2 separate regions of the Homo sapiens genome follow, and region 1 is linked to region 2. A link means that fine-mapping ties the variant in region 2 to the expression of a gene that starts in the linked region. Tissue or cell type: whole blood. Region 2 holds a variant in brackets; the other region holds the start of a gene. All regions are shown on one strand. Distances are between the middles of the regions.

Region 1 (6,560 bases), 65 kb after region 2:
GTTGTGTGAATGTGGCTGGTACATAGTTTTTGTTATTCTGGATCCTTGTATCACTAAATGCCTAATCCAGATGCTTCTGACTGGTTCCCTGAAATTTAAATGCAGAATTCACTTTCCTACAGAAACAATGTAATAAATAATAAGGCATAATTGACAATCACAGTAGTACTGTAACTAGGCACATTTTAAATTAAATATGCTTTTTGAGAATTCTGAATTTATAATTAAAACAAATTTCAAATGTAACTCACTGTTGTTTGAAAACTGCCTCAAACCTAAACTTAATTAGCCACAAATTACTGAAATTCCTGAATTATTAGCCTCAAAATAGCATGAGACTGAGGTAACATAGTTCCCCTGCTGATCTGAAAGTGCACTTTTAAAATTTTCCCATCTTTTTCTGTTAGTATTTTCTCACCACTCAACATAAACCTTTAAAAAATACTTACCCAACTTAGTATTTCCAAGACAATCTTACTTCAGCATTGGGATTAGGATAAACAATCATGACAATCTTCAGTTTTAAACATCAGCCAGTTGTTTTCAAATATTACTCCTATTCTATATACAGGGAACAGAGTCTTCTGGTTTGGAGCAAAATAATGGAAACTTCTTAACTCCTAAAATTAATAAAAGTATTTTAAAAGCTTTAACATTTGTATTTTCAGGCCGGGCGCAGTGGCTCACGCCTGTAATCCCAGCACTTTGGAAGGCCGAGGCGGGGGATCACGAGGTCAGGAAATGGAGACCATCCTGGCTAACACAGTGAAACCCCATCTCTACTAAAAATACAAAAAATTAGCTGGGCGTGGTGGCGGGCACCTGTAGTCCTAGCTACTTGGGAGACTGAGGCAGGAGAATGGTATGAACCTGGGAGGCGGAGCTTGCAGTGAGCCGAGATCGCGCCACTGCACTCTAGCCTGGGCAACAGAGCGAGACTCCGTGTCAAAAAAAAAAAAATTTTTTTTTTTGTATTTTCTAATTATGTTGTTTTTCTAATGTCAGAAAAGCATCTTTTGGCAATAGGAGAACAAAGTTTTGCTTTCCACTTGGTATCGACTTGGTGTCGAAAATAAGAAATGTTATGTGAAAATAAGTTTTTGTCCAGTGGATAAAATCAGTGTTAAGCTGATTGAGATTTTCAGAGTCCATTTTTTCTTTGTACTTGTTTAATAATAGAGGAGTTCCACATTCTGTTGTCAATAGACATTTAGTGCTGTACTAGAAATTAAAATGTCTCCAAAAATTAAGAATATGAACAAAGATTTAGTTTTAAGAATGTGAATCTGTTTTGAAACCAATTTGTTAAAATTCCAAAAAGTTAACTGTTCTCTTCAAAAGCACAATCTATGTCTATTTGGTATGTCTGCAATGTTTCCATAGTGTAACAATATCCTGCATACTTTACACAATAATGAAAATTAAAAACTACACAGACATCCAAGAATTGGGAAATAATTAAGTAAGATATGCATGTGATAGCAAATAACAGAATATCCAGCCAGTAAAAGCCAAGATATTCAGTTCAAATTAAATAAGCAAGTCACAAAATAGTGTGTACAGTATAATCCTGTTTTTGTTTTAGAAAATGTTTACATGTGCAGTGGGATGGTTATGGTTGGTTCAACCGTAGTTCACACTTTTTCTACATCAATTTTGTAATAAAATTTTTTTCTTCTCAGAATAATTTAAACTCTGTTTCAGATCAGAGTGCATATGCTACCTTATTAAATTCACAACAAAGAAATAAAAGAGTGGTGGGTATAGGACAAATAACTCTAGATTGACTTGGTTGTGACAATCCACAGGTTGGAGCTGGAATCTCGAGTCTGAAGTCAAATTATATCTGACCACCATGTCAAATTGGCAAGTAACTGACATCAAATCATGAGATTCAATACTTTTGTAACCAATTTTGTTAAAATTCCAGAAAATTGTTGTTGGGAGACAATTTTCCCTGCGTCTCTGGTGGTTCTGCATGTCTTACTGACTGCCCTTTCCTCTAGACTATTGTCTCAAGGATGTTTGTACACTGGACAGCCTTGAGAAACATGCTTATTTGTCCAAATGATAAAGATCTGGGTTCCCTAAGCTCAGGGCTCCTTTCCTGTAATTCGACACACACTACATCTAGGTGACTTCTTGCCCACTTTGCATTATCCTGTGGGAACTGGGGCTTTAGGGAACTCAGGCGAAATTGCTGATTTACTGGCTACTGCTGGGAGTAATTCATTCCTGAAATGAATAGTCTTGTGTCTTCCATGAAACTGCCAGGCTAAGTTAGCCTGCAAACAGGGTAAAAATCTCTGTTCCTTCCCAGTTCTTGAAACTTTTTTTTTTTTTGAGACGGAGTCTCGCTCTGTCGCCCAGGCTGGAGTGCAGTGGCACGATGGTCGGCTCACTGCAAGCTCCGCCTCCCAGGTTCACGCCATTCTCCTGCCTCAGCCTCCAGAGTACCTGGAACTACAGGCGCCCGCCACCACGCCTGGCTAATTTTTTTGTATTTTTGCTAGAGACAGGGTTTCACCGTGTTAGCCAGGATGGTCTCGATCTCCTGACCTCGTGATCCGCCCGCCTCGGCCTCCCAAAGTGCTGGGATTACAGGCGTGAGCCACCGCGCCTGGCCCCCAGTTCTTGACACTTTTTAAGGTATAGTTCCAAAAACCTACCAGCGCTGTATGTGCACAAACTAATTTCTGTCTTCAAATATTTTCTTAATTATTCCATACTTACCAGCATTATTACGTGGAACATCTGATAGAAAACCTAAAGAAAAATAGCACGACTATGTGTTAGAACATTCGTTATTAAAAATCTTTTTGTTCTTTCATTTTGAGAGACTCCAATTTGGTGCATTATGTGTACACGTCAGAGCCAACTTGTTAGTAATGAAGTTATCTGTACATCAATGTGTTAGAAAAGCATCTTTTGAAACCAAACGCGCAGCTACTCCTAACAGATTTCTGTGGTCATGTATTTACCAAGAAATTTAAAATATCTCAAAGGTCCTAACGTAAATATTCTAAGCATATCATTACGTTTTAACATTCCTATTTTTAAAAAACTTGGCCCCATCTAGTCCTGACCATGCCTCAGAAACCAAAGGATTAAAAAAACAGCGTTTATGTCAGCGAATCCGCGGGTTTTTATAGTTAAGGGAGGGCTTTGCTCCTCACACTCCACCCGCGAGGAGATCTGCGGACGCACACACCACGCCTAGGCCTCGCGCGCTCACACACCTGCCGGCTCCACCCCGAGGGTAGGCATCGGACCCAATCGGGGGTCGTCCCCCATGGGGAGCGCGCAGGTGGGGATGGGAGTAGCAGGCAGGGCGGGGGCCCACGGGCTTCTCACTGACCCAGTCCCGCCGTCGGCAGCCGCCCCGGCGCCCGTGACGCTCCTGCGGGTTCAGTCCTTTGGCCTCGCCCCACGCCTGCCCTCTCGGCAGCCCCACTCACAAGCCCAGCTCGCAAGCGCAGGCGCCTCTCTTCTCTAGCCCGACCGCCAACTGCAGCACCTCCCTTGTTCCTCGGCTACGGCTGGCGTCACTTCCGGCGGCGTTGCCAAGCAACCGCGTGGTACGAGTAACAACTCCACCGGCTGGCGTCCGCGGCGCTTGGCGCCACAGTCACTTTTCCAGATCTAGGAGCATCATGGACACCTCGTCAGAGATGCTGGTACGGTTTGGACGGCGCTGTGGACGGGCGAAGGAAAGTACAGGTGAGCTAAACTGACCTATCCAGGGACAGGGATTGTTTCTGGACCCCCGGCATGGAGTGAGAGGCGAGGATGCCGAATGAGGGCTTCAGTTGCCTTTTGAAATGGACTCCACCAGGTCGAAAGCATCCTCAATAAGCATCTTTGGGCTCTGTGTGAAGTTAGGCCGTCTTGCCCTCAGGTGAATGGGTGAAGGAGGGAAACGGGGAGTGGAAGTGGGTGGGAGAATGTTTACAGAAATAGGGGTGGAGAAAAGATAGGAAATCAGAGACCCCCACCCCCAGCCCCAGCTGACCTAAAACTGCGCAGTTGCAGCTCTGAGAGTCTGGGTTTTGTTAAATTTCCCGCACGCTTAAAGTTTGTTATTCACTGATTGAATTGGAATATCTCTTGGAAATATAAGTCACCTCTTTAGAGGCTTGGCTCTTCTGCAAACCTGCTGATTGGTCTTTACTAAAAGTCTCTGAAGGAAATATCTCCATTTCCTCCTCTCTAAAGTAAATATAAGGTCTCTCTCTAAGTCAAATGCTTTTAGAGAGTTAAAAAAAAATCGTGTGACATAAAGTACTGTAATTCAGGTGACCTGTTATAACAATTTGATTTTGGAATAGAAATAGACTTCTAAAGAACTCTATCAATTCTAGCTACAACAGTTTCTTACGTCTGTAAATTAGCAATTAATGTTGTCATGGTGACAACTAGAACTTTGGCAATTTGAAGTATCTTCATGTCATTGCCCGAGCTTCTGTAGCAATAGTGCCCCCTGCACCAGATGCAGAGTGACAGCCAGTCATTCTTCACTAGTGGATATTTATGCAGTGGAGGTTTTATGAGGTTAGCAGCGGACTTTTGCCATGTAAAAGGAAAGAAACAGTACCAACATGGCCAGTTTTGGAAAAGCACAATTAGTCCCACACATTCACTTTCCTGCATATGCATTTCTGCACTACCTGGTTTAGATTTACCTAATAGTTGTTAAATAATGTTTTGTGGCAACTAGCTCAAAAGCTTCCACCTGAGCCTCACTGCTAAATTTTAATCTCCATTTTTAGGGGAAGGCTAAGTTGGAGAGAGGTTCAGAGATGTGTGCAGCTATTAGTAAAATAAATAATTTATAAAGATTTAGTGGGATGACATCAGCCAGAATGGTGAAATAGGATCTATGCCTGAAATCCTCTCCTCCATAAAATCAACAAGAACAGTGGCAAAAATCATCAATATCGACTTTTTCAGAACTCTGGAAATTAACCAAAGGCTTGCAACAATTTGTAGAGTGTTTACTAAAGAAAAACAGCTGGATTTTTGTAACAACAGCAAGGTTTTTGGCATTTTAACTTGCCATAGTCCTATACTTTTCTCCCAGCCCCGTGTCAGCCTAGATAACCACAGTAATCACAGTGAAAAATAGTGACTTAGCAACTGGTAGAGGGGACAAAACAGAATTTGACCCACTCCAAAGCCAGACAACTGTTATTATTCGACATGTTTGATAGTTCCTTGGAAAATCTCACTCATGAGGCTTATTGTTATTTAGTCTGACTTCAAACTCACCAAGTATGTTTGTCAAATGTTCAGTGGCAATTTTAAATATCACAGCTATCAGAGGCATGTGTGGGAACTTAATCCCCAATGTAAAAATGTTGGAAGGTAGGGACTAATGAGAGGTGATAGGCCATGAGGGCAGAGTAAAGGGATTAATGCCATTATCTGGGGAATGGGTTCATTATAAAAGTGGGAAAGTTGGCCCTCTTCTTTCTCTCTCTCTCTCTCTGTCTCTGTGTGGTGTGTGTGTGTGTGTGTGTGTGTGTGTGTGTGTGTGCGTGCGCCTGTTGCCCTCTCTTTGCCCTTTTGCCATGTAATGCCTTCCATCATGTTATGATGCGGCAAGAAGGCCCCTGCCAGATGCTGGCACCTCGATACTAGCTTTCTCAGCCTCCAGAACCATAAGCCAATAAATTTCTATTCCTTATGAATTACCGAGTCTCAGGTATTCTGTTATAACAGCATGAAACAGGCAGGCAGTGATACAGTTGGGAGGCAAACAACAAGCTGACCGAAAATCTTAAAAGGATCAGTTGGGAAGTGATATGTCCATAGGGGGCTTTGGAAAGCTCCTGACATATTCCTGGGAATCTAGAAGGCCAAGTGCATGCATAGAGCTATGTATATGCCCAGGAAAGACCTGCAAATGCCTCTCACCTATGACTTACCTTGAGACTCTGTTTAAGAAAGAAGTAGAGGCTAAGATGGAGTTGTAAATTGCCTGCCCGAGCATTGAAGGCATGCCTTAATACTCATAGACAGTCCTTTGGCAAAGACTGGGAGACTTGTTAGTTCCAGTCATCCAAAGATATGTCTGTCTAGTTATTAGCTGACCACTAAGCAAACCAGAGACTGCAGTGACTCCAGTGGCCACATGTGACAAAGAATACAGACTACAGAATTGGTTCAGAGAAGTCCTGAAACAAACAACAACAGCAGGAATGAGAAACTTTGGGTGTATGTAGAAATCTGATTTCCAGAGTTGACACATATATGTACAGTTTTTAATAAAAATTATGAAAGATGAAAAGAAATAAAGTATGACCCAAACACAAGAAAAAGGTTTCAATAGAAAGTGTCTTTGAAATGGACTCCACCAAGTTGAAAGCATCCTCAATAATCATCTTTTGGCTCTGTGGAAGTCTGGCCATTTTGTGCTCAGTTGAATGGGTGGAAGAGGGAAAGGGGGAGTGGAAGTGGCGGGGAGGATGTCTACAGAAGTAGGGGTGGACAAAAGATAGGAAATCAGAGACTGCCCCCCCAACTGACCTAAAACTGTGCAGTTGCAGTTGTTGTAAGCC
Region 2 (5,638 bases):
AAGGTAGTTGCCCTTTAATAACTCAAGCTGTACATTTGTCTCATGTGGATTTCTGTATTCGTATCATATTTAACAGTAAATAAAGTTTTCAAAAAATCATACAACTAGTAAAGCTCTAATCTCAAATGTCTGCCCGCGCACAAGGAGGGCCTGTGTTCTCTCGACAGGGAAGAAGGTACGACTCATTTCCTTGATGGTCAAGGTGTGAGGAGGGAAAAGCTATAAAGGGTTAGAGAAGGGCTGCAGAAACACACCTTCGGGAAACCACAAGTACCACTTTTATGTATTTATCTGTCCAGGAAAGAACTAGAAACAAAAGTTTGTCTGTGAACTTTCAAATGAAAGATGTATTTCACAAGTCTCTGCTGAAAGTGTTCACAGATTATACATGCTCAGCCTGACTTTTAAATGCCACTGAACAAAGGTTGGGGAGTGGGTAATAATTAACTACAGTCTATTAAGGCTGATGGATACAGTGCTGGTACTTCAGATTTCCCAACGAGAACCTCTGTAGGTACTTGTAGGTATACAATCTTGTGGTCTGTTTTGAATTTCAAAGGTAAAAGTTGAAATGTTGGCAATCTTGTGTATCCAACGTGGCACAATTTGCAGTGACTCTTCCTAAACCAGCTCAGAACACCCTTAGGAGGCGGCCAGTTGGGATCTGCAATATTCACTGGAGGTTTGAGCAGGATGCTCAACACCCGTCCAGTGAGGCCCCCACAAAAATATTATCTTTTAACTCAGAGGGCCCCAGTACGAGTTTAACAGTCTATGACTCACAACTTCAAAATAACATCGAAATTCAATTCAGAGTTAAAGACTGTATGACGATGCCCCGGATTTTAAGAAGACAGTTCTGTTGGCCATATTTTTATGTTCATTGCTATATAGTCCATAAAATTTGTGTCACAACTTCTTCTTTTCTTGAATTTTTATAATTTATATACCCCAATTTTACTAAAGACTACTATATTGTTTTTGTTTTTCAACCTTTATTTTAGGTTCAGGGGTACATGTGCAGGTTTGATATACAGGTTAATTTGTGTCATGGGGGTGTGTTGAACAGATTATTTCATTACCCAGGCATTAAGCCTAGTACCCAACAGTGTTTTTTGTTTGTTTTAAGCAGAGTCTCGCTCTGTTGCACAGGCTGGAGTGCAGTGGCATGATCTCAGCCCACTGCAGCCTCTGCCTCCTGGGTTTAAGCAATTCTCATGTCTCAGCCTCCAGAGTAGCTGGAATTACAAGCATGCACACCCATGCCTGGCTAATTTTTATACTTTTAGTAGAGACGGGGTTTTGCCATTTTGGCCAGGCTGGTCTTGAACTCCTCACCTCAAGTGATCCACCCGCCTTGGCCTCTCAAAATGCTGGGGTCACAGGTGTGAGCCACTGCACCTGGCCCCAATAGTTATTTTTTCTGCTCCTCTCCCTCCTCCAACCCTCCACCCTAAAGTGTTTGTTGCTCCCTTGTGTTCATGGATTCTCAGAATTTAGCTTCCATTTATAAGTGAAAACATGCAGTATTTGGTTTTCTCTTCCTGCATTAGTTTGCTAAGAATAATAGCCTTCAGCTCCATCCATGTTCCCACAAGACATGATCTCACTCCTTTTTAAGGTTGCATAGTATCCCATGATGTATGTGTACCACATTCTCTTTTTGCAATCCGTCATTGACAGACATTTAGGTTGATCCCATGTCTTTACTATTGTGAATAGTGCTGCAATGAACATTTGCAGGCATGTGTCTTTATGGTAAAATGATTTATATTCCTTTGGGTATATGTATACCCAGTAATGGGACTGCTGGGTCAAATGATAGTTGTTTTTAGCTCTTAGAGGAGTCACCACACTACTTTCCACAATGGCTGAACCTAATTTACACTCCCACTAACAGTGTATAAATGTTCTCCTTTCTCCACAACCTCACCAGCATCTGTTATTTTTTTCGTTTTTTAGTAATAGCTATTCTAACTGGTGTGAGATATTACCTCACTGTGGTTTTGATTTGCATTTCTCTAATGATCAGTGATACCGACCTTTTTTTCATAGGCTTTTTGGCCACATACATGTCTTCTTTTGTAAAAGGACTAGTATATCTTGGCCGGGTGTGGTGGCTCACACCTGTATTCCCAGCACTTTGGGGGGCCAAGGCGGGGGAGATCACCTGAGGTCGGGCGTTCGAGACCAGCCTGACCAACATGTAGAAACCCCATCTCTACTAAAAATACAAAATTAGCCAGGCGTGGTGGCACATGCCTGTAATCCCAGCTACTCAGGAGGCTGAGGCGGGAGAATCGCTTGAACCCAGGAGGCAGAGGTTGCAGTGAGCCAAGATCGCGCCACTGCACTCCAGTCTGGGCAACAAGAGCAAAATCCCGTCTCAGAAAAAAAAAAAAAAAAAAAAAAAGGCCAGACACGGTGGCTCACGCTTGTAAACCCAGCACTTTGGGAGGCTAAGGCGGGCAGATCACGAGGTCAGGAGATCGAGGCCATCCTGGCTAACACGGTGAAACCCTGTCTCTACTAAAAATACAAAAAATGAGCCGGGCGTGGTGGCGGGCTCCTGTAGTCCCAGCTACTCAGGAGGCTGAGGCAGGAGAATGGTGTGAACCCGGGAGGTGGAGCTTGCAGTGAGTAGAGATC[G/A]CACCACTGCACTCCAGCCTGGGCAACAGAGCGAGACTCCGTCTCAAGAGAAAATAAATAAATAAATAAGAAAAACGACTAGTATATAATGTTAGGTGATGCTTTATTTATTACCTTCAATAAAAATGAGAATTCCTCTCATTTAATTTCTTGACAATAGAATTAATTTCATATAGAGTCTTTCAAATGTGAAACATTGGTAAGTTGTGTTATTTACTACTGTGATAGTTAATGAAGCTTTTTTTTTCTTTTTTTTTTTTTTTGAGAGAGAGGGTCTCACTCTGTCACCCAGGCTGGAGTGTGGTGGCATGATCATAGCTCACTGCAGCCCCAAACTCCTAGGCTCAAGTGACCCTCCCACCCCAACCTCTTGAGTAGCTAGGACTACAGGCATGTGTCACCACGCCCAGGTAATTTTTTGGATTTTTTTGTAGAGATAGAGTTGCACAGGCTGGTCTTAAATTCCTGGCCTCAAGTAATTCTCTAGCCTGGGCCTCCCAAAGTGCTGGGATTATAGGTGTGATCACCACATCTGGCCTAATGAAGCCTTAATATCAGTATTGATATTTCATAACTTTATAAATATTATTTTCTTACACTGCTCTATTTCTTAGCTGTTAAATAATAATTGCTATAGCTAAAACACCTTATGAAATACTTGATATTATGAAATACTTTGGTTGTCTTATATAGATTGACATTTAATAATAATTGGGCTAGGCACAGTGGCTCATGCCTGTAATTCCAGCACTTTGGGAGGCCAAGGCAGACAGATCACTTGAGGTCAGGAGTTCGAGACCAGCCTGGCCAACATGGTGAAATCCCATCTCTACTAAAAATACAAAAATTAGCTGGAGGTGGTGGGGTACCTGTAATCCCAGCTACTTGGGAGGCTGAGGAATGAGAATCACTTGAACCCAGAAGGCGGAGGTTGCAGTGAGCTGAGATCCGGCCACTGCATTCCAGACTGGGCAACAGGCAAGACTTTGTCTCAAAATAATAATTGGCAAATAAATTATGTGAAAACAACTTTTTATATTAGCCTCAAGAAAGATGAACTCTTTATCACCTTGAGTCTTTCTCTCTCCTAGGAGCAAAAACCTTTTTTTTTTTTTTTTTTTTTGGTAGAGGACCACCCCCCTAGAACCCTTCTTCTAATATCTTAGAGGTTAGAACTGCTTCACATACATTCCTCCACCAAACACTGGCAAGGAGGATGGACTATCCATGATTGGCTTAGGGTAATTAAGATTCAAGTTACATGGCCTCCTAATATGCAAAAAGACCTGGGGCTCTTGATAATCTACATCTTTGACACAATTAGTCACTTCTCTTGCATTATATTTTGCTTCCAGCCCTTGGCAGAATGGTCTAATAGTCAATGACCCTGTCACCAACTTCTTTTTTTTTTTCCTAAACCTACTTTCTATCTTCCACTCCTCAGGAGTTCCTGACACCCATCATTGTTTTTTGTTTTTTTCTTTTTCTTTCTGTCAGAAACTCCTCTCAAATCAAATGGAATTGCGAAAGTCAGGATAAGACAATATATCACTATCTGTGGTATGCAGAATAATGGTCCCCTAAAGATGTCTACATCTTGATCTTTGGAATCTGTGTATCAGGTTACATGGAAAGGAGAATTAAGGCTCCTAACACTGATATGGTGAATCCTGTACCACGCTTCTATCCTGCAGAATTATAAAATAAATTTGTATTACTTTAAGCTACTAAGTTTGTGGTAATTTCTTACAGAAGTGATAGAAAACACAATACACTTTCCAAAAATATTTACATTTTAACAAGGGACAAAGCCCTTCCTTGACTTAGCATATTTTTCGTTGCAAGAGATAGAAACTTGATTCAAAACAAAAAAGGATCTATTGGGTCACATCACCATCCAACTGTGGAAAAGACAGGAATGGAACTGTGTCAGGAAGGCCTAGAACCAGACGTTAACATCATCCCCCATCCCCAGTCACTGGGCATCTGTATCTGTTCTCTTCATTCACGCCAGCTTAGTCCCAACAGCAGGGAACTTGGCCAACCACAGCTCTAGGTCTGCCCCCATGACTCAAACACCTCCCATTAGGCCCCATCTCCAATCCTGGGGATCAAATTTCAACATGAGGTTTGGAGGGGAAGAATTTCCAAACCATAGCATTCCACCCCTGGCCCCCAAAACTGATGTCCTTCCCACATGTAAAGTACAATCATCCATCTCAACGGTCCCAAATGTCTTAAGTTGTTCCAGTACCAACTCAAATGTCCAAAGTCCAAAATCTCATCTGAGATTCAAGAACAGTTCCTTTCAGCTATGAGCATGTAAAATAAAAAACAAGTTATTTCATTCCAAGATACAATGGTTATACAGGCATTCCCATGTCAAACATTCCCATGTCAAATGGGAGAAATCAGTGAAAAGAAAAGGGTAATAGGCCCCATGCGTGTCCAAAACCCAGCAGGGCAGGCATTAAATCTTAAAACTCCAAAATAATCTCCTCTATGTCCCACAACCTGGGCACACTGGTGGGTCCTGAGGCCTTGAGCAGACCCATCCCTGTGGCTTTTCTGGGTGCAGCCCATGTGGCTGCTCTCATAAGGTGGAGTCAAATGCCAGAGGCTTTTCCAGGCTGAAGGTACACACTGCTGGTGGCTCTATCATTCTGGGGGCTGGAAGGCAGTGGCCCTCCTGCAAATCCACCAGGCATTACTCTCGCAGAGGCTGGCTGTGAAGGGTCTGACTCTGCCGCAGGCTTTTGCTTGGGCACCCAGGCTTTCCAATAAATCCTCTGAAATCTAAGTGGAAGCCACATCTCCATAGCTCTTGCATTCTGTGGGCCTGCAGAATTAATACCACGTGGATATCACCAAGGCTTCCACCTCGTGCCCTCTGGAGCAGCAGCACCAATCTTATCTGGGGTTCCTGGGGTCATTTGAGCCACAGCTGCTACAGCCTGGGAACAGCATCCTGAAGCAGTGAGGAGCAGTG

Evidence for each region. PIP is the estimated chance that this variant, and not a neighbour inherited with it, causes the effect. A credible set is the group of variants that fine-mapping cannot tell apart.
Region 1: it holds the start of PHOSPHO2, and the variant in region 2 is the best candidate, but not a certain one, in a credible set for the expression of PHOSPHO2 in whole blood (TOPMed, PIP 0.80).

The regions. Positions count from the first base shown.
Region 1 is chr2:169,691,421-169,697,980 of GRCh38, reverse strand. PHOSPHO2 (phosphatase, orphan 2) reads right to left here and starts at 3,512. Exons shown (of 4, transcript NM_001008489.4): 1 at 3,359-3,512; 2 at 2,734-2,766; 3 at 450-620. It overlaps CFAP210 (cilia and flagella associated protein 210), which reads left to right and starts at 3,576. Exons shown (of 9, transcript NM_001085447.2): 1 at 3,576-3,720. The coding sequence starts at 3,654. PHOSPHO2-KLHL23 (PHOSPHO2-KLHL23 readthrough) reads right to left here and starts at 3,512. Exons shown (of 5, transcript NR_144936.2): 1 at 3,359-3,512; 2 at 2,734-2,766; 3 at 450-620. RefSeq lists a silencer at 3,204-3,483 and an enhancer at 3,614-3,793.
Region 2 is chr2:169,756,545-169,762,182 of GRCh38, reverse strand. No RefSeq gene overlaps it. Among named protein-coding and RNA genes, the nearest start is that of KLHL23, 26 kb to the right of the region's middle. The variant G/A (reference allele first, on the strand shown) is at 2,650.